Regions from separate parts of the Homo sapiens genome. Here all the other regions are linked to region 1. Evidence: fine-mapped expression QTL. A gene starts in region 1. Each other region holds a variant in brackets. All regions are shown on one strand. Distances are between the middles of the regions. Region 1 holds the start of ACO1 (aconitase 1). Region 2 overlaps ACO1 (aconitase 1). Region 3 overlaps ACO1 (aconitase 1). Region 4 overlaps ACO1 (aconitase 1). Region 5 overlaps ACO1 (aconitase 1).

The links. PIP is the estimated chance that this variant, and not a neighbour inherited with it, causes the effect.
Region 2: its variant is fine-mapped to the expression of ACO1 in skeletal muscle (GTEx, PIP above 0.99).
Region 3: its variant is fine-mapped to the expression of ACO1 in whole blood (INTERVAL, PIP above 0.99).
Region 4: its variant is fine-mapped to the expression of ACO1 in unexposed skin (GTEx, PIP 0.92).
Region 5: its variant is fine-mapped to the expression of ACO1 in cerebellum (GTEx, PIP above 0.99). The same link has a PIP of 0.9 or more in cerebellar hemisphere.

Annotation. Positions count from the first base shown.
Region 1 is chr9:32,382,391-32,387,287 of GRCh38, forward strand. It overlaps ACO1 (aconitase 1), which reads left to right and starts at 2,253. Exons shown (of 21, transcript NM_002197.3): 1 at 2,253-2,345. RefSeq lists a silencer at 2,054-2,433.
Region 2 is chr9:32,439,319-32,444,215 of GRCh38, forward strand. ACO1 (aconitase 1) reads left to right here. Exons shown (of 21, transcript NM_002197.3): 19 at 1,147-1,269. Among named protein-coding and RNA genes, the nearest start is that of ACO1, 57 kb to the left of the region's middle. The variant G/A (reference allele first, on the strand shown) is at 1,837.
Region 3 is chr9:32,450,234-32,455,130 of GRCh38, forward strand. ACO1 (aconitase 1) reads left to right here. Exons shown (of 21, transcript NM_002197.3): 21 at 1-4,536. Among named protein-coding and RNA genes, the nearest start is that of ACO1, 68 kb to the left of the region's middle. The variant C/CAAA (reference allele first, on the strand shown) is at 2,744.
Region 4 is chr9:32,408,038-32,412,934 of GRCh38, forward strand. ACO1 (aconitase 1) reads left to right here. Exons shown (of 21, transcript NM_002197.3): 4 at 477-614. Among named protein-coding and RNA genes, the nearest start is that of ACO1, 26 kb to the left of the region's middle. The variant A/G (reference allele first, on the strand shown) is at 2,835.
Region 5 is chr9:32,433,304-32,438,200 of GRCh38, forward strand. ACO1 (aconitase 1) reads left to right here. Exons shown (of 21, transcript NM_002197.3): 16 at 425-529; 17 at 1,256-1,398; 18 at 2,947-3,094. Among named protein-coding and RNA genes, the nearest start is that of ACO1, 51 kb to the left of the region's middle. The variant T/G (reference allele first, on the strand shown) is at 2,806.

The DNA of each region.
Region 1 (4,897 bases):
CAAGATGAGGCTAAGACCTGCCTCTCCTTGTTATGAATTTAACTCTTTTTTTCTTAAAGAGGAACAAAACGTTTATTTCAAATTTTCTCTGGTATGAAGACATATATTCAGTGAAAAATTTAGGGATTCTAAGGTCCCCTCAAAGCATTCAGGAGGACCACTGTGCATTCAGAGGACACTCTCTTGCCTGCTGCCAGGTAAGACATACCTGCTTCCCCTTCTGCCATAATTGTAAGCTTCCTGAAGCCTCCCCAGCATGCAGAACTGTGAGCCAATTAAACCTCCTTCCCTATGAATTACCCAGTCTCAGGGTTCTTTACAGCAGCGTGAGAACGGTCTAATACAGACACCTTTGGAATATCCAGGTGGGGTTGCCACATATGGCTGCAAATCAAGAGTGTGAAGGTCAGAAAGTTAACTAAGACCAATGACAGAGACATAGCAGGCTTCAGCTAGAAGTGGCAGGCAGTCTGCATACTGAGAAAATAGATGAAGAAAAACTCAGCAAATGGAGAAACATATAAAGCAAGAGGAGAGAGTGTAGGGAAAGACCTTAAAAAAGAGGGACAAAAGAGGGAAGAGGTGACTCCTAAGAGCGGAGGGCTGAAAAGCCAAAAGGAGGTTAACATTTCTAGGAAAACGAATCGCCAGTGTCAAATACCACAGAGTAGTGAGTAAGGACAGGAACAGAGGACAGGCCCTGGGATTCACGATCTGCACGTCACTGGTGACAACGTCCAAGAGCAACAGACTGGGGGGATGTGGAACTATTTCCTTCACGGTTTTGACCAGCGTGCTTACTAATAAATCTCAATTCCCTTCATAGCTCTGATTTGATTGTTTTCTGCGAAGGATTCTCAGTTACACGGATGTTATCATTGAACATTAGATACTTTGCTTTCCGAATGGCTGCCTCATTAAGAATCGCAATTTAGCTGGATGTGTCCTCATCGGACTTCCCCAGCCTTCTACTCACTCTCACCTTGCCCCTACTCTCCCTACCTCCCAAGGGGACTGGAGCATGATTTTTCAGGGATTGTGGTGCACCTCTGCCATATGGTGGACATTCAAAGAAAATTTAATTACTAATGTGAATGGAAAGGATTTAGGAAGTGGGTGGGAAAACAGTCTCCTCTCATATTGGAAATACAGTTACTTCCCCTTTCAAAATAAATATAAGTATTTATATTTCAAAGTTAAATATAACTAGACGATAGTTGTACCCTATAGTGCAGTATGACAGGGAAGGTGTAGGCTTTGGTGTCAAACCAACCTAAGGACTGAGTCTCAGCTGTTGCGCATTGCACACCTGCAAAGACGGGTAATATTCTTTACTTGTAAGGTGGTTGGAAGAGCTGAACTGAATAACGTGGAAAGAGTCGATCACAGGGCTTTGTGCAGAATAGGAGGGCAGTATAAAGTAGCAGGGGGGCTATTAGTACTGGCTATTGTTTACTCATCCTATAAGCTGCTTATTCAGAAAACTACAGTAACTTTCCAAATAATTTGGGCAGGAAAACCTCACCACCTTTCATCTAGAAAGATCTAATCACTTCTTTGAACGCCATTCACCCAAGAGGGCACAACTCCTACCAACATGAAAAGCAGATCTTGTGAAAGCCCACTTGCTGCCATCTCCCAGCCATTTCTCCGACTTCAGACCGGTGAACATCGTGCATTAGAAAGTGTTGTTACATGTCCAAGGAAATCTACATATAGAACTTTTGCCACGGAAATGCTGAAGTCCTATTCTGACAGCGTGACTCCGATGTCCACTTGGCAGGCTTTGCGCAAAGAATTAAGGCGAGGGTGGAGAGGGTGGGTAGGGTGGGGACGGACAAAGTGAGAAGGGAGGCGGGCCAAGTGACCACACGTACATGAAGCCTCTCCAGTTATGGCCAAATCATTTTTTAAAAATAATTCCATTTCTTCCCCACCCTTTGGTCACTTCCTAACGCCGGCTGGGGAGTCACATGCTAAGCTCCAAAGTGAGCAACAGACACCCTCGTCCCAGGTCCCATGCTGGCAGAAGCGGACCCGGGCCGAGGGATCAGCCCTCCCACTTCCAGCGGAGGAGCCCTTCGCAACCCTAGCCTCCAGCCCGGGGCGAAGTCCTCCAGGCCCGCGGGGGCGCCCGCAGGCTCCGCCCCTTCTTCGGCTAGCTGCCCGTCCGTCCCGCCCCTGCTCCGCCCTTCCCGCCCCTGCTCCGCCCATCGCGCGGCGGCCCCGGGGGCGAGAGGGGGCGGAGCGTGGAGGCGGCAGCTGGAACCGCGCAGCGCACGGGAACGCGTCCCGCTGCTTGGGTCAGGTTCGCCGGTCGCGGGAGCCCCGCCGTGCAGTCGGAGGTGAGTACCGACGCGGCCCGACCCACGTCCCCAGGCGGGAGCGCCGTCCACCCTGTATCCCTCGAGAGTCGGTGCGGGCCTTTACCGAGGTGCCCGAGGCAGTGGCGGCACGGGGGACACGGAGGCGAGCTTGGGGAGGCTGAGAGGAGAATCGGGGACGTGTTTCTGGCGACTGACGTCTCCACCCTGTCCCCAGTCTATGTCATGCCGGGGAGAGAAACCAGGGATTGGAAGTGGCTTTCCTAGACCCTTCTTAGCCTTGGCTGTGCGTGCTGTCCTGAAAGTCCTTGCCTAGGGTGTGCGGCCAGTCCTGGGAGTCCTAACCCCGAGGGTGTGAGGCCCGCACTGGGAGTCCTCGCCCAGGCCCGGCTGGCTGGATAGGGAAACCCTTGCTAAAGTTGTGCGGGCAGATCCGGGAATCCACTCCAAGGGGTAAAGGGAAAATGGGATGAGGGGGAAGAGACCCTTCGTGGGAGGCTTGAACACAGAGCCCACCATGATAGATTCAGAGATCTAGAAAGGAGCTTGGGCTGCAGTTATGACCAAGTCATTTTTTTCTAGATTCAGCTAGCACATCATAATGGCATCTTCCTTCTTGCAACACATGTAACTCTCTTCCCTGGGGGACAACCTCTAGGACAGAAGTCCCCAAACTTTTCTGGTACTCAGTACTCCTTTACACTCTTAAAAATTAGTATCTTAAGGAGCTTTTATGTGTGTTATATCTATCCATATTTATAATATGTAAGTAAGACTGAGAAATTTGTACTATAATAATTCATTTAAAAAGAATAGTGAACTAATTATATCTTAACATTGCCTATTTTTATGAAAAAGAACTATATTTCCCAAAACAGAAAATGATTGAGAAGAGTGGCATTGTTTTACATTTTTGCAAATCTCTTTGATGTCAAGCGTAATTGAAGACAGCTGGATTCTGATAGCTGCTTCTGCAGTCTGTTGCAATATCACATATCATGTAGCCTCTTGAGACCTCCACTGTATACTCCTGAAAATGTGTGAATGAAAAAAAGCAAGTAACATTTTATTACTAGGAAAATGGTTTTGACTTTGGAGATCCCTAGGAGTTCTCTGCACCACACTTTGAGGATGCTGGTGTAGGAAATGCTTCAGAGGCTTCATTCATTGGGCCTGCTTCTTGTTTGTGATCCTTCCTCTGATTGGGAACACACACCACCTCATGCCATGGACAGTATTAACCTCTGGTATCTGGAACCAAGTTTGATCTCACTTTGGAAACCATGTACTAGGTCCCCACGTGAGGCTGTGATGAACCTTGCCAGCCTCCTGAAAAGTCAGCAAGGCTTCGCACATGCCTTTGGTTGTCTCTGTGCTTGCAGAGCTGACCTGTCTGTGCATCAGGATTACAACAGTGATGTGGCAAACAGGACCTGTAGGCTCACAAAAGTGCCAGTGGGGAGACCATGCCAAGTGTGTAGGGGTTCCTGTGAGAGTTACCAAGTAGTCAGGAAGTTATTTCCAAAAGAACAAGGAGGCATGCTTTTGCCTTCCCTTGCACGTGTTCATTTCTGTTTGCAGTTGCATGGTTATTAGCCTTGAGTTTATTGGAATAATGATTTCCAGTCTTGACGTTCTTTCACTTTCCACTTTCAGAGGGTGTCACTCTGAGTGGTGCTTCCTCAGCCCCTGTCAAAAAGCAGTTTCCACCATCCTGGAGTGTGGTAGGTGAGGTCCTTCACGGGACTCTTTCCTTAGCTTCGTGCCTTGTCAGAACAAGTTCAAGACAGATGTTATGTGTATATATTTGGGAGGAAGAAATTTTCTAACTCCATCCTCCCTTTTGTTCCTTCATCCATAGAGCCTCTTGTGCTCTGATGGATCAGTTTAAATGCTACAGCCGATACTTGAGAAATGTTGCATGCACATGAGCGTGTTGTGTGTGTTGCACAGTCCACAGGTGAGGAGGAGGAGAAGTCCACAGGAGAAGGAAATGGGATCTAAACTCTGAGCACCTGCTGTGTTCTTTGTATTAAAAAATTCCACTTTGATGGTGGGGTCTCATTCCTTCATTCTTTCAGTAGATTTTTATTGGCCACCTATTTCTCATGTGTCCAGTTATGTGCGGGATGCCAGGAAAGTAGTGAGCACAAAAGATGCAGTCCCTGTCTTTCTGGCAATTATGGTCTGATAGCTTTGATAACTGCTGGTTAATTGAGATAGTCTATTATATAGTCAGAGTGTGTACATGAAAGCTGGTCCTGTGTGAAGAGCAGTACCCCCTACCTAAAGTGTGCTTCAAAGGCATGTGCTGAAGAAACCAGTCCCACACTGTGAAGATGATGATAAAAACCAACGTGTATCACCACGTGCCTGGCAAAGAACTTCCTTTGCCTTCTTTCCCCCACTCTTCCTTCTACATAGGAAGTAATTTCCTGTGAGGCAGCCAGATTCACAGGGAAATTACCTCCAACCTGGTGCCAGTCACTGGGCCAGCCTCGGGTTAAGACACTTTCTCTGGGTCTCAGTGTCTTTGACTTTAAAATGAGGAGTTAGGCCATTGATAGTAAGTG
Region 2 (4,897 bases), 57 kb after region 1:
CTGTCTAGCTGAAGACATACAGAATCCTATCCGGGTTTAGGTAATGCATGCGAAATTAACCACAGGTTCCATCAGTACACCAAAATACAAATTTGTGAAAGTCTGTTTGAGAGTTTTCTTTAGCTCCTGTCTCTCTTTTGAGGAATTTTATCTTCTGACTTACATAGCCTGGAAAAATAATGGTACTGCTCAACCACCAGAGATGATATCATGTCTTTGTAAAGTCTCAGTTCAGTGAGATATTCAGATTCCCTGTGAGAAACAAATCTGTTTGTATAAGATGTTTCTCATGTACTAAAATATTAATCTTTTTCTACCTTTTATTGGGCTTCCATTTGCATTTCTAGCATCTCTTCCCTTGACCTCCATGAAGAAAGGGGACTGATAAAAGTTTGCACTTTATATAATTTCAGAACATGTTACCTTCTTTGTGTTTTGCTAATTTTACAACTGACATCACCGAGTTTCTGATATTGAGCCAAAATGTTTAGGTCACATTCTGTTTTTTGAGTTTTAAAATAATTTAGTCAATGGAAAAGAAAAAATCTGATCTAGTTTCCTTTTCTCCCCTGATGCCTTAGGATTCTAATGTTTTTATAAAACCAACAACAATTAGGCATTTCTGTCAAAAGAATATAAAATGGTTTTTAAGAATACAAAATTTAAGGCCGGATGCAGTGGCTTACGCCTGTAATCCCAGCACTTTGGGAGGCCGAGGTGGGAGGATCACTTGAGGTCAGGAGTTCAATACCAGTTTGGCCAACATGGTGAAACCCCATCTCTACTAAAAATACAAAAATTAGCTGGGTATGGTGGTGTGCGCCTGTAATCCCAGCTACTTGGGAGACTGGAGCAGGAGAATCAATTGAAACCCGGGAGGTGGAGGTTGCAGTGAGCTGAGATCGTGCCACTGCACTCCAGCCTAGACAATAGAGTGAAACTCTATCTCAAAAAAAAAAAAAAGAATACAAAATTTAATTTGGTAGAAGTAAAAAGATCAAGATAATTGGGAATTTGTAGACAAGATGATTGGACGGATTTGGCCATCTGCAAACCCATCCAGCCCCGCCCTCACCAGGGCTCAGGGGACCTGTGTCCATTCTTTGCCTCTCCTGCATCTGTAAAACTTCCTTTTCTCTTCCTCAGCTTGATGTGTTTGATGCTGCTGAGCGGTACCAGCAGGCAGGCCTTCCCCTGATCGTTCTGGCTGGCAAAGAGTACGGTGCAGGCAGCTCCCGAGACTGGGCAGCTAAGGGCCCTTTCCTGCTGGTGAGTATGAAGTAGACATCCTAGGAGGCAGCTCCCCTCTGAACTGGGAGGGTCCCCAGGCACAAATCCTGTTGCTTTACTTTCCAAGAAGATGTCAAGGAAGAGCAAGCTCAAAAAAGCAGGTAGTGTTTATTCCTGGCCTGCTTCTTGGTGCCTCTGGATTTATTTTATTTGGTGAAGGGCAATGCAGAGTTGAACTGGATCTATCATTCATTAATGGACCTTGGGGGCATGTCTATAGAACAGTTTTGGGGTAGGGTCTGTGAAGTCTCTGAAAACATATCCAGAAGTATACATGTATGTCTTTCATGGGGAGAGGTGTCATGGCTTTTATAACATTCTCAGAGGCTGAGGACCCCAAATTTATTCAGGTCCCTTGTTCCAGGTGAATGTCAGGAATAAGCCAGGGCCATTGTATTATCTGTCAGTTTCACAGAAGAGAAAAGGAGCCTGGACTTTTTCAGGAGTTACTTTGGCAAGAATGGGTTCTAAGTCTCCTGGAAAATTGGGAGAATCACTTTTTATAATTGCACTTCACTGCCTATGAATATCTGCTTATGGGCTCTC[G/A]ATGAGAGTGAAACTCACTCTGCACATACCCAGGCAGCTCTTTAGAACCTTCCGCCATCTCGGGGCTCTACCTCTTGAGGTGTCCCCATAGAAGGGGCCATGCAGGGAGCAGAGAGCTTTTGCCTCTTGAGCATTTGCTTGCCCTAAAAGCAGAGAAGAATCATGCCACCCAGCCTGAATCTTCAGGGTGGGGTACACATGGCTTACCTGATGTCAATTTAAATCATTTGTGGCTCGCAAATTAATGCACCTCGGAAACACTAAGTTCATATCCACAAGTACAGTAAAAAAATGTGGCTGTCTGGCAGGCAGTTCTCCAGACATTTAGGCTTCTGATAATGTCTTTGAACATCACACCTATTATTTTAATTGGTTATTTTGCTCTGAGGAAAATAGAAATGTTCTCTGATTAGTTGATAGTAGGTCAAAGGCCTGTCTTTTCTGGAAACTATTGAAAAGAACCAGATAATTGCAGAAGAAAAGGATTTTAGGAAGGGGGTTGGGAGCTGTAGCCAAAATGCAACCCAGGCAGTCAGCACTCAGGTAGGGAACTCTAAGATCTGATAGAGGATAAGAAGAGAACTGGCCCCCAGGGGTTCTCTAGAGTCCAGACTTTTCTATAGAACCGCTTGAGTTCTGGCTGCCCAGGAAGCCATACAGTCTTCTGTTCTGTAGCTGTCCAGGCTGGGCCACGTAGCCGTGCTGGACTGTACTTACAGAGAGCAGTGGACAGCTATGATTTACAGCTTCTGAAGCAAAGCAGCATGGCCTTTACACAGAGCTAGTGACATGAATAGGGTGTGTTTAGAAAGCTTTCTACCTCCCTAGAATACATCCATCTATCCCTAAAACCCTAGAAAAGATCTACCGCCCCAAAGAATCTGCCCTCTCTCTGTAGCAGTGCGTCTCAAGTTTGGAAACACTTATGGGATTTTTTTTTTTTAATACTTTAATACCTGTGTTTGGATCTCATCTCCAGAGATTCTGGTTTAATTGGTAAGGAGAAAGGCCTGGACATTGGGATTTTAAAAGCCTCCCCTGCTGATTCTGGTATGCAGCAGTGGTTGAGAACCATTGCGCTATAGTTCACGGTTCTCAAAATTGTAAGAATCACTAGCCCCCTCCCACCCCACGCTCCCTGCAAGACATTCTGATGCAGCAGATCTGGGGTAGTACGCAAGTATCTATGTTTTCAACAAGCTCCTAAAGTGACCCTGGTGTTGGGCATCTTAAAAGTGTGCCCTAGATACCAAGAGACCTCTTAGGGTATTTTAATATTATATGACAGTTATTAATTATTAATAATAAACTAATGGGGAGTTCTAGTTAATGGAGTACCATCCTTTATTGCTGTATATTGCCAATTATAGATTCCCAATAAAACATACTTTAAGCTTAATATCAAGACTATATTCAACACAATTTCATCTTTGAAGCAGGAAGTGTAAAAGCAGTACACAAGAGGTAATCATTTACTTTATCTGTGGTATGTTCTGAAAGTTGCTTTTTTGATTGAACTTTCTGTGCCTGCTGATACACCTAAAATAGTAGAAAAAAATCAAGGGAAAAATTTTATGTTGTTTTGTGATGTGGATTCCAGATACAATGTAACTTTGCTAAAACATGTTATATCATTTGTCAGACTTCATGGGTCCAATTACCAGATACCAGCACTGACTCCCTGGGTAAAGGGGGACAATAAGGGCATCTACATCCCCGGGTTAGTGGATGGTGGAATGAGAGGAATTATTTAAGTGCTTACATAGTGCCTCTACATTATGAGCAATCAGTGAAGACTAGCTATTGTGTTATTTATCACTAGAGGATAACATTTTATGTAAAATATTAATATGTACTTACAAATAATTTAGGTGTGAGAACAGTTCTAACTTACAAAGTCTTTTGTTTATTTTTGTTTTTTTAACAATCACCGGCTCAAGAAGCTTATAATTTGGGGTAGGGCACAGACCAGTAAATAGACAATTACAAAGCAATATAACAGAAGAAAGCACGGTGTTATGAGGCAAAAATAAGGACCACTAACTGAAAATTTATTAAGCCATTTTCTGTCATCCTAGATGTATTCAAGATGTAATTCCCTTAGAGTACAAAGTTAATGTAAAAAAAACGCTTCATTGTGACCTTCAGTCTAGAAGATGTATGGCAAAATTAGGCTGAAGCATCTTTTTCTCCTGTGACATTAGACATCTGATTTCACTGAAATATAGCACACAATTACTGGAAATGAGGGCCTATAAAAGTCCACAAAACCAAGTGACTTTTCAAGATATAACAGAGGTAAAAGGTTACTGTCATCACTGTCTATGAATCATCTCATTATCGATATTCTAGACTTTGAAGTAAAATAATAAAAAGTTTACTTAAAGCAACAGCATCAGATAATTAAACAATTCTTTGGTATTTAATACTAATATTTCAGAAATAGAACTCCAGAGTATTTCCAGATGTGCATATGCTGATCGATTTTTAGGTTTATCATCCTTCGCTTTATAACGGAAGTCATTTCTTATACATTGATAGAATGTAGTATGAGTGTAGTGATATTTTTCACTCTGACATTAACTAAAAACATGGTGTAAATGGAGAATTATAGAGGTAGCAAGGCAAAGGTTACAAAATATATGCAAACATTTTTGTTTATTTGTATGCTGTATTTCATTGTTGTGTTTTTATTATACTTTAAGTTCTGGGGTACATGTGCAGAATGTGCAGGTATACATGTGCCGTGGTGGTTTGCTGCACCCATCAACCCATCATCTACATTAGGTATTCCTCCTAATGCTATCCCTCCCCTAGCCCCTGACCCGCCAACAGGCCCCAGTGTGTGATGTTCCCCTCCCTGTGTTCATGGGTTCTCATTGTTCAACTCCCACTTATGGGTGAGAACATGCAGTGTTTGGTTTTCTGTTCTTGTGTTAGTTTGCTGAGGATGATGGTTTCCAGCTTCATCCATGTCCCTGCAAAGGACATGAACTCATCCTTTTTTATGGCTGCATAGTATTCCATGGTGTATATGTGCCACGTTTTCTTAATCCAGTCT
Region 3 (4,897 bases), 68 kb after region 1:
GCACTGAGGGTCTGGTGCCAATCCTGTAGGCACAAAACCAGAAGTTTCTACATTCTCTATTTTTGTTAATCATCTTCTCTTTTTCCAGAATTTGGAAGCTAGAATGGTGGGAATGTCAGTAGTGCCAGAAAGAGAGAACCAAGCTTGTCTTTAAAGTTACTGATCACAGGACGTTGCTTTTTCACTGTTTCCTATTAATCTTCAGCTGAACACAAGCAAACCTTCTCAGGAGGTGTCTCCTACCCTCTTATTGTTCCTCTTACGCTCTGCTCAATGAAACCTTCCTCTTGAGGGTCATTTTCCTTTCTGTATTAATTATACCAGTGTTAAGTGACATAGATAAGAACTTTGCACACTTCAAATCAGAGCAGTGATTCTCTCTTCTCTCCCCTTTTCCTTCAGAGTGAATCATCCAGACTCCTCATGGATAGGTCGGGTGTTAAAGTTGTTTTGATTATGTACCTTTTGATAGATCCACATAAAAAGAAATGTGAAGTTTTCTTTTACTATCTTTTCATTTATCAAGCAGAGACCTTTGTTGGGAGGCGGTTTGGGAGAACACATTTCTAATTTGAATGAAATGAAATCTATTTTCAGTGAAAACTTGTTGACTTTGAGTTTTGCTGTGTTTGTGGCTAGAGTTTTGGGATATTTAGTACAGAGTGAATCTCACACCATATCATTGGGAAGCCTGAATAACCTTCATATTCTCCCATTTTTACAACTCTATCAGAACTGTACGGGTATAACGGAAATGTTTAGGAACCATTATGCTCGCTCTTCCCTGTTTGGGAGCAGACAAGAAGGAAGAGTAGCCTGGTGGCAGTGGCAACGATATAAGTACATAAGGAAAAGCAGATAAACTTCAGGACACTAAAAACCAATTATCTGCTCATTTTTACCCCTGTAGTCATTTCTGGGCATGCCTTAGTTTGCTTGGGTTGCTATAATGTAATGCCATAGACTGGCTGAAAGAACAGAAATGTATTTTCTCACAGTTATGGAGGCTGGAATTCTGAGATCAAAGTTGAAGCCACTTCATTTTCTGGTGAGGACACTCTTCCTGGTTTACAGATGGCCACCTTCTTGCTTGTTCTCACATGGCATTTCTTTGGTATGTGCCTGGTGGGGGAGAGAGAAAATAGGCTCTCATGTCTCTTCTTACAGCAACACTAATTGTATTGGATCAGGGTCCCACTCTTATGGAGACCCAGGAAAGCTGGTGGTATAACAACTTGGTTCAAGTCCAAATGCCTAAGAACCTGGGGAGGGGCATGGGGAATGCTGGTATAAGTCCCAGAGTCTGAATGCCCAGGAACAAGCAGGAGCTGTGATGTCCAAGGACAGGAGGGCAGGATCTTTGTAATGAATTTTTAATGTCAACCTTAGCACTCAGGGGATATGGCCTGGTCATCAGAACATCTGGAATCTAATCCTCTTTCTACTTCTCACCAGATGAGGGATCAAGACAGGTTATTTAGCATCCCTGCACTTGCGGTCCTGGGGATCTTATTTATATTCATTTAAAAAATAAATTACAAACAAACAGCCAGGCGCAGTGGCTCATGCCTATAATTCCATCACTTTGGGAGGCCGAGGTGGGTAGATCACCTGAGGTCAGGAGTTCTAGACCAGCCTGGCCAACATGGTGAAACCCCGTCTCTACTAAAAATACAAAAAATTAGCCAGGTGTGGTATTGTGTGCCTGTAATCCCAGCTACACAGGAGGCTGAGGCAGGAGAATTGCTTAAACCCGGGATGCAGAGGCTGCAGTGAGCCGAGATCGTGCCATTGCACGCCCGCCTGGGCTACAAGAGCAAAGCTCCGTCTCAAAAAAAAAAAAAAATTACAAACAAACAGAACTCCATTGTACAAAAAAACCTGTGATCCTCAAGTTAAGATCAGTCCTAGAATAAAAACACTAAGAATGGCTGAGAAAACAGACCTCCACCCTCTCAGCTCTCCATTACTGAGCAGCTGGGGAGCTGTCTCGCTCCCCGCATTCAGTGGCTCCTGTGGTCTGTATTTTTGTATCCTCCCCAAAATTCAGGTGGTGAAACCTTAACCCCCCAGGTAATGGTAATAGAAGCTGGGGCCTTTGGAAGGTGATTAGATCATGAGGGTAGTGCCTTTTAAAAGAGACTCAAGATAAGATAGAGACCCCCTCATTTCTTCTGCCATGGGAGAACACAGCAAGAAGTCACCATCCGTGAACCAGAAAGTGGGTTCTCACCAGATACTGAATCTGCCAGTGCCTTGAACCTAGACTTTCCAGCCAGAACTGTGAGAAATTTCTATTGTTTATAAGCCACCCAGTTGATATTTAGTTACAGCAGCCCAACCAAGACTGTGGTTATGAGGAAACAAACACATTATTGTGGCTAGACTAATGGAATTGGGTCCCTTACCTCCAAGTACACCCTCTGTCCTTTTCGGTAAAAATATCTTCGCCAGGCACGGTGTCTCATGCCTATGATCCCAACACTTTGGGAGGCCGAGGCTGGAGGGTTGCTTGAGCCCAGAAGTTTGAGACCAGCCTGGGCAACACTCTACAAAAAAAAAAATAAATAAATAAATAAATAAAATAAATCAGCCAGGTGTGCACCTGTGGTCCCAGCTGTTCAGGAGGCTGAGGTGGGAGGATCACTTGAGCCTGGGAGGTCGTGGCTATGATTGCTCCACTGCACTCCAGCCTGGGCAATAGAGTGAGACCCTATCAATCAATCACCACCCCCCCCCCCCC[C/CAAA]AAAAAAAAAAGTATCTTGGCCAGTGTCTCAACCTTGCCCACTAACAAGCCTAAATAAACCAACTTCTTTTACCTGGTTCTTTAAGGGCTGCTCGTCTTACTATCCAAATTAAAAATCTGCTGTTCTCCCTCCCATATTCTTTGCGAATGAAGATTCCCCTGTTTGTTTGGATAGTTTTCCAAATTCATTACTGCATTCCTGGCATCCGCAGCAAGCTAAGAGTTAGTTAATATTTTTAATATAGCAAATAAGGATGAGGGATGCCCTTCATGTGTATTTACACACCAGATTTTTATGGTACATAGGGAGTAATCTAGGGAAAAGATATATTAGGCATGAATCTTAGCTGTGGTAGAAGCACAGCTCAAATTAGCTTAAGGAAAAAAAAAAAAAAGCTGGCTCATAGAACTTGAGGACAGTGGTGGCCATGACTATGGGCTTGATTGGATCTAGTGACTCAAGCTCCCTTCCATTTGCCCCTCCAACCACCCCCCCATCCCTCCACCAATCATACCTTCTGTTGGCCTCTGCAGTAGAGTGGCCTCTTCTGGGCCCTTCCACATGCCAGGGGATATGGCCACCAGCAGTTCTGGGGAAACCATTAGTAATTTGTGATCGTAGAGATTTGTCTCCCAGTATTCCCTAGGGCAAAAATATTGGGAGTTCCTAGTCACCTAAATGAAGAACCTTATTTTTAGCAGTTTCCCTTTCAGGGCTCTAACAGGACTGTGGAGTAATGTACGGGGTTATGTAGGAGCAATGCAGAGCCACTTTTGAAAAACAGTAGCCAAGGTTCTACTGGCTGCCTTCTTAGGACATTATTAAATATCATAAACACAAGTGGAATTTAACACCCAGCCAGTTTGTGTTCAACCAGACAGCGTCATTATGAACAAAGATTATATAACGATAGCTGATATTAAGTAAGTTTTAAAAGTTGACATCCCAAGAGTGAAGCCTACTTATTCAGTACAGATTTGTTGAATGAAATTCGTAGTTTTATTTTACGGCATAATGAAACAGAGTTCCAGACATGTACCTGCCAAATTTGGTTCTGGTTGTCTTATCGTATGCAGGCTGGATACCTGCTACTGTGCTTCTACAGGATGTTAACAGTGTCCCCTGAGTAAAACAGTTCCACGGTCAGTACATTTGGGAACCACTGAGTTAAATGGGTTTTATCACTGCAGAACAGACACAAGAACAATGTGTGCTGTAAATCACTGTTTGCAGGGAAGGTGGCAGCAAATGGCACAGAAACCCACCTGACCACAGACTGCTTTCTTCTGGGCGTTCACGCACTGTGCTCCACAGGATACTCTTGAGAAACATTGAGCTATGGTTGGTCTGTTGTTTGAAATTCAAATAATAATGAATCCATTTTAAGGACAGGAATTGGTTTACTGACCTTGATGTTGGGATGACTCTTCATTTCAGGGTGAAAATATCACAGCATCAGCACAGGCCAGGACCACAGAGATAACAAGGTGGTAGTTGTGTAACAGGTTGTGTCTGAACCACAGGAGCTTCAAAACATACACGGCTGGACACCCTGCCAGGATGCTCTAATGGGGCTGGGCATGTGTCCATGAAAAAGACTCCCCAGTTGTTTCTAAAATGTGGCCTTTGTTCTAGAAATGCAATGACCAGCATTTGGGAGTCAGTCAAAAGATCCACTTCCTAAAAGCCTACCTGCTCATTTCTTTCATTCAATACATATTAACCAAGTGCCTACTTTGTTTGAGTCCATGCCTGGCAATGACATTATTCCATTAAAAGTCAAACAAGGAAATGCTAAGTTCTCCTTATTTATTTTCACTTCAGTCTGCCTGCCTCAGTTGGCTGAATAGGGCTATTCACCTTCATCCAAATTGAATCATTTACATACTTAAAAGAACTTTTCTTGGCCAGGCATGGTGACTCACGCCTGTAATCCCAACACTGTGGGAGGCCGAGGCAAGTGGATCACTTGAGGTCAGGAGTTCAAGACCAGCCTGGCCAACATGGTGAAACCCCGACTCTACTAAAAATAAAAAAATTTAGCCGGGTGTGGTGGTGGGTGCCTGTACCCAGCTATGTGGGAGGCTGAGGCAGGAGAATCACTTGAACCTAGAAGGCAGAGGTTGCAGTGAGCCGAGATCACACCACTACAC
Region 4 (4,897 bases), 26 kb after region 1:
TACTTTTAAGCGAAAAAGAGAGATTCATTTAACATGAATTTGATTCACAGCCAACTTTTCTGAATTATATCCATTCCTTGAAATCTGGTCAAAACTGAAAAGGTGTGATCTGAAAGTCTTCTCCAGGTCTTTGTCAAGCCACCATGTGAATGGGAAGCACTCACAGCAGTAAGAGTTCCAGAGTTGTTAAGTGCCAGCTTTCCCATCATTGCTGTATTTAGAACATAGCCGTTATTAAATTTAATACGGTGATAACATTGTACATAGAGATACCACCCAGTCATGGTACTTACTACCTATGTGATTTCTGCCTGAGGAAATACGCTTAGAAACTTTCACTTTTCTAAGTCTCACCCATTGTTAGCTCCTCTGATGAGGTAGGGCCTTGTCAATATTATCAATGGAGGCAAAAGCTGAAAAATCCAGTTACACACATTTAAGGCTTATTTTCTGCATTATTCTCTTTCTTCTCTTAGGGGTGTGCCCGCTGTGGTTGACTTTGCTGCAATGCGTGATGCTGTGAAAAAGTTAGGAGGAGATCCAGAGAAAATAAACCCTGTCTGCCCTGCTGATCTTGTAATAGATCATTCCATCCAGGTTGATTTCAACAGAAGGTGAGAGATTAAAACGAATACCTGAGTGTTCTGCTTTGTGCAAAATCTTTGAACACGAATCTTTTTAAAATGTGTATATGTAGTTAAAGAAGAAAATCTTTCAAAGATATCTTCTGAAAAACTTAAACTTCATATACATTTCGCAGTAAAGATGTTTTAGGGGGAAGAGTGGGTGGATTTTTCTTTTAATCTTTTTTTATTTGTTTTTACTTCTTGGGTGGGAGCAGCCTGCATTTGAATCTGACTTGAAGTCTAGGTGAAAACACACACACATGAAGTTCTGCCATGAGAGCTTGTCAACACAAGTATATGTCAGTGCAAGTATATGTTTGAGCTTTTTCATCCACTGGAAGCTTACTCCTTTTTTTGATCCCAAGTAACTGTTGCATATCTAGCGATCTCTGCCTCTTCACGTGGGTTTCCATAATGCCTATCCCTTTCTTTCCCTGTGTTTCTTCTTTTGTTTGGGACATCCTCTCCTCTGTTCCTGCCAAATCTTACCTGTCCTTCAAGGCCAGCTTAAATCTTATTCTGTTAGGAATCCTTTACTTTCCAGCCTACGAAGCTCCCTGTTCTTCAGTTTGCCAGATGATTTAGTGTCCTGAGTGGGCCTGTAGCCCTTGAAGGGAAGTTGTCACTTGAGTTGACTTGGTAAGTAGACTCTCAGCTCCCTGAATGCAAGAGCTGAGCAGATAAATAGGCATTTAATATCCTAAATTGAGTGACCTTGAAATTATTCTTCGATTAAGTGAGAATCTTGGTAAGCCTGAATATAGACACCTAATGGTCTATGACACCTTTAGGTGGGGAAAAACTAAACAACTCTGAGGATAGGTTTTTTGTTGCTGTTTTTGTTTTTTTAAATCCATCCCCACATCCTTAGCATCCAAAGGTGTGCATATTAAAATGTCTTCGTTGGCCACGTGCAGTGGCTCATGCCTGTAATCCCAGCACTTTGGAAGGCTGAGGCAGGAGGATCGCTTGAGCCCAGGAGTTTGATACCAGCCTGGGCAACACAGGAAGACCATATCTCTACAAATAACTTTTTAAAAATTAGCCATGTGTGGTGGTGTGTGCCTGTGGTCCCAGCTACTTAGGAGGCTGAGGCAGGAGGATCACCTGAGCCCAGAAGGTTAGGCCATGCATACCAGTTGGGTGACAGAGCGAGACCTTGTCTTTAAAAAAAAAAAAATCTTAATAAAATGTGTTACAAAGAAGAGAACTGAACATGTGAATATGCAGTTGTGAACTAGCAACTTAGGCCTGACCTCTTAACAAACTTTGAAAGTGAATACTTCTTAATCAAAATATGTGTACCATTTGTAATCCTAGCCCATTGAAGAGATGACTAAGTTTTGTGAGGTTAGGAGCCAAGTAGTAATGGTCAATTTTCCTGACTCAGTTTATTTTAATGAGCTTTTATCCCTAAATCTCACTCTCTAAAAGCCTTTGGTTTACGTTGGAAGTATTGGGAGTGAGTCTTTGGGTTAAAATGGCATCAGGATATTAAACATTGTTATAAAGCCCCAGTCTTTTGTAAGATACACAAAAAGGCATAGAAAATAGTAGAATCTAAGAGAAGCACTTAGTGATTTGATAAGGCCTATAAGAGTAGAGTACCTGATGGCCGGGCGTGGTGGCTCACGCCTGTAATCCCAGCACTTTGGGAGGCTGAGGTGGGCGGATCACAAGGTCAGGAGATCAAGACCATCCTGGCAAACATGTTGAAACCCCATCTCTACTAAAAATACAAAAAAAAATAGCTGGGTGTGGTGGTGGGCACCTGTAGTCCCAGCTACTTGGGAGGCTAAGGCAGGAGAATGGCGTGAACTGGGGAGGCAGAGCTTGCCATGAGCAGAGATAGTGCCACTGCACTCCAGCCTGGGCGACAGAGCAAGACTCCGTCTCAAAAAAAAAAGAGTACCTGATGAAGTTAAACTTGAAAAAAAAAGAATCTAGTCATCTTTGCCCTTTGGCTCAAAATGGTAATCAACAGATGGGAATGAAGTCAGAAGAAACTCTACCATTTGTCCTTTTCTCCAAAAGGCAGAATTTGTACCAGCCAAAACCGTGAAGATTTCAATGTAGAGATGGGTGTAAAAAAAATCAGCTATTGCTGTATAACAGTCCCAGAATCTCAACAGCAGTCAACAGTAAGAATTTATTTCTTACACATCTTCTAGTTGTTTGGGAGGTCAGCTGACCTAGGTGAGCACAGTC[A/G]GGAAGCTCTGCTTTGCACTGCAGTAGCCAGGTTGGGAGCTTACACTGAACCATACATCTGCAGGGCAGCCGGGACAACTCTGTTCCATGTGTGTTTCTTTTGGGGTCCAAGCTAAAGGAGAAAGCAGCTGTCTTGTGACCACAGAGACTCAAGGGGGCAAGTGAAAACACACAGTATCTCTAAGGCCTAGCTAAGGACCAGCACAGCATCACTTCTGTTCACGGTGCCATTGATCAAAGCAAATCACATGGTTGAGCCCAAAGCTGGAATGGGGAAATACAGTCCACCCGTCTTCGGTGGAAGTAACTTCAAGATTACACCACAAGGGTTTTGATACAGGGAGGGCAATCAGGTATTTTTAAGAGGCTATTATCTTAACCTAGAAGTATGACTACCTAAAGTTGTCAAAACAACTATCAGTGGGAGAAATAACTTTTCCATATACAGTGCTGGAAATTGATTAGTGGAGGGAGCAGTTCTTATGAATGTTTAAAAGTTTTAGAAGGAAATGTATGCGTGTCAGATGTCTTGATGAGACTAAATTTAGAAGCAACGAATGAAACACGGAAAAAAGGTATAGATTTAGTTACTGCAAAGTTAAGAGAAAATAACTTGAAAAATATGGCAAAGTGTTAATATACTTAATATATGGAGTGTCTATAATCCATTTAGAAAAATAATAGGTCCCTGAAGATAAATGGGCAAAGGAAAGTGGACATTTCATAATAAAAGGAAATGCAAATGGTAGTAAACAGTATATAAAGGTTTTTCAATCTCACAAGGAATAAAAAAGTAAATATTTGAGATGTCATTTTCTTATCAATATAGTTGAGATTAGAAAATATTAATTATGAAGGTGTTATAAGGGAGACACTTTTATACACTGCTGATAGCACTATAAATTAGAAATGAGGATTAAAGCAATATGTGTTAAGACCTTAGAAATTTCTATATCCTTTGTCCTGGAATTCCTACTTCCAAGCATACCCTTTATATCATTTATTTATTTATTTATTTATTTTTTGAGACAGGTTCTCACTCTGTTCCCTAGACCGGGGTGGCGTGATCACAGTCCACTGCAGCCTTGACCTCCTGGGCTTAAGCAATCCTCCCACCTCAGCCTTCCGAGTAGCTGTGATCACAGGCATGCACCATTACATCTAGCTAATCTGGATAGCTGACTTCAGAAAAAGCTTAATGGCCAATAATGTTTATTAAAGTATTATTTATAAATGAAGCCTAGAAACATTCTAAATGTCCAACAAAAAATGCTTTATTAAATTACGGTATACCCCTGAAGTGAATCATTAGGTAACCTTTAGAGTTTAATTTATGAAGTCTTTAATAACACTTGGAACATGATCACATTGTAGCTCAACGAGCGAGATGCTACATTGCATATGTAGAGTGACATAAGCTACATGGAAAATGATGCAGGAATTAAAAGATTGGAAAGGGTGCCAAGTTGCTAAGCAGTTATCTCAGGGATTGCAACTGTCTTCATTTTCCTAATAAGAAGCTATTATTTTTATAATTAAGTCACTTAAGAATATGAAACCACTCAACGGGAAACAAAAACACCTTTATTTGCTTCCTTGGGGATGTAACTGAGTTCCTGGCAGCCTCAAAAGAAATTTAGAAAATGATCTTTCTCCAGTTAATATTGCTAACATCCAAACCAGATAAATTCAGGATAAAGAGAAATCTACTTTGTCCCCTGAATTGATGGTACTTGGAACAGACCATGTACTCGCCAACTCTTCCCTTTCCTTTGGACTCTGAACCTGTCCTAAGGCAATATGTCTTCCCCAACCTTCCTTTTTTCCTAAATCACGTGAACTCAGTTTAATGTTTTGGTTTCAAATGGAAGAGTTTAAAATATATGCGTAAAATGTTATCCTGTTTGAGATAGGATAAAGACCCACTTCAGAAGTTAGGAAAGTAGCCATAAATTCATGCCCAGTTTCATCTTTCTTGGAGTCTTTCATTAATGTTGATGGGTTTACCTTCATTTTGCTTGCCTAGAAGGTGAAAGTACAGGTAGAGACAGAATTGTAATATA
Region 5 (4,897 bases), 51 kb after region 1:
GCTCACTGCCACCTCAAATTCCTGAGCTCAAGCAATCCTCCCATCTCAGCCTCTCGAGTAGCTCGGACTACAGGCACATGCCACCACACCCAGACAATTTTTTTTTTATTTTTGTAGAGACATGGTTTTGCCATCTTGCCCAGGCTGGTCTTGAGCTGCTGGGCTCAAGCCATCCTCCCACCTCAGCCTCCCTAAGTAATGGGATTAATAGATGTGAGCTACCATGCCCAGCCCACAGTGTCTCTGGATTTTTAAGTTACTTAGCATGACCCACTATTAGTATAAAGGAACTCTTGTATGTGGCTATTGAGAATAAAAATGGTTCTTAGTGTACCTTTTAGCTTGAATGTATGTTTTGTGTTTGCATATTAAATTTTCTCTGGAATGGGATGTGATTAGATCTGCCTTTCTTTTCTTTTTTAAGACTGTGAATGAAAGCTGGAATGCCTTAGCAACCCCATCAGATAAGCTGTTTTTCTGGAATTCCAAATCTACGTATATCAAATCACCACCATTCTTTGAAAACCTGGTATGGCTTTTTATTTTTTAACAAAATGAATTCTTTGAAGGGTTTCTTTCCTAATAATATCTACTTTATTACCCCATGCTCTTGCTTTGACTACCCATTTTATTAAACCCTTTGCAAACCCAAGCAGATACTGCTGGGGAAAGTTTTGGGAGGCTGGGATATTTGGCTGCCGTGGGTCTATAGTTTCTCTATGCAGGGGTTCTGCGTGGATGTACACAGCCACCCTAGTAATCACCTGGACTTAAACCTAGTAGAGTCTGAGGGACTGTCCCAGGAGACCATCCCCAGAGCCCACCATAGTGAACCTTATACCCATAAAAACCAGGGACATTGTCCCTGAAACTGATGATCTAGAAGTTGGTGCTCTCCTGGGTGGGTCACTGTGGGAAGGGATGCAGTAGAAGTGAGGATTCCAGTTGTCCTTAGCATCTGAGGAGTTCTAGGGATGTGAAGAGAGAGAATGTCATTTGCAGCTGCGTTACTGTTGCTTTTGAGGGGATATTGCCAGTATTTTACCTTTTCTTCAAGAGTAAGATATGAATGTTTTGAGTAAATTCACCTTACTTTTCTTGGCCTCTTTGATAAAAACTAGAACACTAGAATTTTCTGTGCATTGGTGTGGAACTGTCCTCTGATTCAGGTCCATGGGCCACCATCGTAGAGACTGATCTGGTAACTTGTTTGGGAAAACCTGGGCCAATGCTGACTTTTTGTATTCTTTGCTAGACTTTGGATCTTCAGCCCCCTAAATCTATAGTGGATGCCTATGTGCTGCTAAATTTGGGAGATTCGGTAACAACTGACCACATCTCCCCAGCTGGAAATATTGCAAGAAACAGTCCTGCTGCTCGCTACTTAACTAACAGAGGGTAAGTATGAATGAGGCAGGAAGGACTAAAGGCAAAAATGGAGGAATGGAGTTAATGAGGCCAGCATTTCTCTTTTCACCTGGCCCTTTGGAATGAGACTCTTTGGTTGTGCACTGAGGCTTAACCCTGGGGTAAAAACCAATTGCATTTTCTGTTTGCTGCTTAACAGCTTCCATGGGAGAAACGATCAACATGTGAATCCTAACAAGGGGAAGGGGAGAGGGACCTTCATTTGAGCAAGTGTATATATTAGGCCCAACTGTCATCCCTGCCCCCGGCTTGGCTGATCTTTAAAGTACAAGGCTCTGCTCTTAACCTGGGGCAGAGGCAGAACCTGACACGCATTGCCAGGTCCTGGTTGAGAAACCTAACGTTTACAGAGCACTGCTTGGAGGATTTGCAGCTTACTCATCTGTTTATCAGTTCTTCAGTAGTGTGCTGATATTCATAGGTATGCCAGTATTATCAACTACTGTCTCATATATTAATCGAGGTCAGTGGTTCCCCAATCTGAGTTTCCACGAGAATCACGTGAGGACATAAAAATTCCTGGTTTCTATCCCCATCTGCTGAATCAGTTCTTTCAGTGATTCCCCAGAGCGAATTTGAGGAACAGAATCCAAATGCCTTTTTTCTATTGATTGTTGAGCCCTTTTGAGGCATGAACACGTCAGAGAATTGAATGAAAGCAAATCTAATGCCTTCCCAGAAAAATGCACATACCCACAACATTTTGGATAGTTTCAGGGATTCCAAGACATACTCACCTGCTCCTGTAACCCATTAAACTCTCTCAGTCCTTAAATTCTATCTAACCATTGATTAAATAATATTAACACACCCACCCCCTAGTATTTTAAGGAACAGCTCAGTGAACTGGTCACGGTGTTAATTGTAAGGTATGTTTCCTGACACTGCAAAGTTTCCTTTCACTGAGGCCCCACAGACAAGATTTCCTCTGGTTTGGGGACCAGAAATAGCTGTTCTGCCTCTTTAGCACTGCCTCGATTTTTCTCTCATGAAAGTTGTAAGTTATGTTGCCAGCTGTGTGTCTTTCCTTTGCATTGAGTTCCTGATAATTCAGGGACAAATTTGAAACTATTTCTGGTTACTTTGTGGAACGTATTTTGTGTTTCCCCCTGTTTGTGGCTCCATCTGATTTGCCTACCCTAATTCTTCCCTTTGCTTCCATTTTCTCACTTATTTTTAATTTAGCTCTTTATCTTATATGAAGCTTTATAGGCTACCCTACTAACAAATAAAACATTCTTTTTTAGACTTCCTTCTTATTTTTCTAACCAGATTTGAAAGACAATTAACCCAGGAGAATACTGACTTATGCCTCTCACCACCCCTTCTCACCTCTCTCTCTTCTCCGTTGAAGCTTTGGGGACAGCTTTTCTGCCA[T/G]GGAGAACAATGCTTAGGAGACTTAGAGAAATAGCCAGGTCTATGTTTTGTTTTGTTTTGTTTTTTTCTTTTCTTGGTGTAAGCTAAGGTTAATCTTTGCTTGCTTCACTAAGCCAGCTCCTTTCTTGCTTGCCTTCTTAGCCTAACTCCACGAGAATTCAACTCCTATGGCTCCCGCCGAGGTAATGACGCCGTCATGGCACGGGGAACATTTGCCAACATTCGCTTGTTAAACAGATTTTTGAACAAGCAGGCACCACAGACTATCCATCTGCCTTCTGGGGAAATCGTGAGTATTGTCTTCTGCTTCCTGCAGACACTAGCATTTGTCAGCCTTGGTGGAGGTTGGATATTTACAGTTACTCGCCTTTTGGTTTTAGTTTTTCTTCACAGCTCCATCCTACCCTAACTACAGTCCTCCTTGCCAGGTGTCCATATGCATAGAATGTATCATTGACAAATTCAAACCTTTTCTTCTTGCTTAGAGATTCTAGACCGTGGTTTCACTGAGTCTCTTTTCTTAGGAATTGAGCTTTGAGTGACATTTCATTTAAAGTATTCGAAGGGGAAATACCAGGTTAAATTAAAGGATATTTATCAAGAAGTGCTATTGTATGACTTTATTGGCATGTAATTTAATTCATCTAATCCACATGAAAAGAAGGAGTAGAGAGGTGCTTGGAGGCATGTTTTGGTTCTAATGGGAGCACTGTGGTCAGTATGTTGCAGCAGGGACTGTTTGTTCCCAGCTCCACGTTATACTAGCTGTGGAGCCTTAAAGTTATTTCCATCTCTGAGCCTTGCTTTTCTCACCTGTGAAGTAAAAATACTACTTACCTTGGAAGAACGCTCTGAGGCTTAAAATGAAATGGAATGAAATATAAAACCTAGCATAGAGTCTGGTACATGTCATAGGTCCTTAGTGTCACTTCCCTTCCCAGTGAGTGCTGTGAAATTGCCTGTAAACTGTTTAACTTACTTGAGAAATAACCCTGCCGACTTATTTTAAAATAATAATCGCTAATATGTCTATGGCACTTAACTACATTCCAGGTGTTCTCCTAAGCTCTTGGCATATATTGATTTATGTAATGCTCATAACAACCCCTTGAGGTAGGTACCATGATTATCTGTGCTTTAAATTGAGAAGTGAAGCATAAAGAGGTCATATTACTCCTTTAGGTCACACAGTGGAAAAGCTGAAATTAAAACCCAGAAAGTCTGGCTCTGAAGTCAGTGCCCTTTACCACCACACATACTGCCTCACTCGTAACTGATTATATTTTTGTAACACAAACTCGTTCTTTAGAAATAACCAGTACCTAGCCCAGCAGACGCCTGTTCAATGGATAGCAGAGGTTACAGAATATTAAATGTAAAAAGATACATGTCGAATGATGGAATACCTTAGAGACCAAGGGGAAAGACTTGTAGTTATAGACATTGGGGGACCCCTAATAAACATCACAGTGTACCACACGCATTTACAAGCCCTGCATGACATAGAACTTCTAGTCAGATGTCTAGAACCTCATCTTAAATGAGACAGAATCAAGGATGAACAGACATTTGAGTCAAGACTTGAACAGGGTGATGGGGAGTGCAAAAAGTAAAAGAAAAAAATTATATACTTAGAGAAGAGTTCATTTTCTGTTGCTATGAAATAACAATCAGAAGACAAGAAAGAATGTTTTAAATTTAAAAAGAAAATTCAAAGGAGAAGGTGATTAGTTGAGAACATTTCCTAGAATATGTAACAGAAAGATAAGAGAAAAAAATGTAAGAACTGAACTCAGGAGGCCCTAACAACCTGCCTAAATAGAAGTGTTAAAAAGAGAACAGAAAAAATGCAAGAGAGGAAATTATTTCAAAACAAAACAAAAAACTACAAGCAAAATTTCTCTGAGAATCCAGATTGAAAAGGCCCACTGAAGGCCCATCTAAATAATTTTAAAACACTCCAAGTTATATCACTGTGAAATTAAGAGCAACAAAAGGAGAAATCTCAACATTTCCAGAGAAAAACAGCTCACATGAAACAACAGGAAATAAGACATGTTCCAGACTTCTTGATGCTAGAAACTTAGACTGA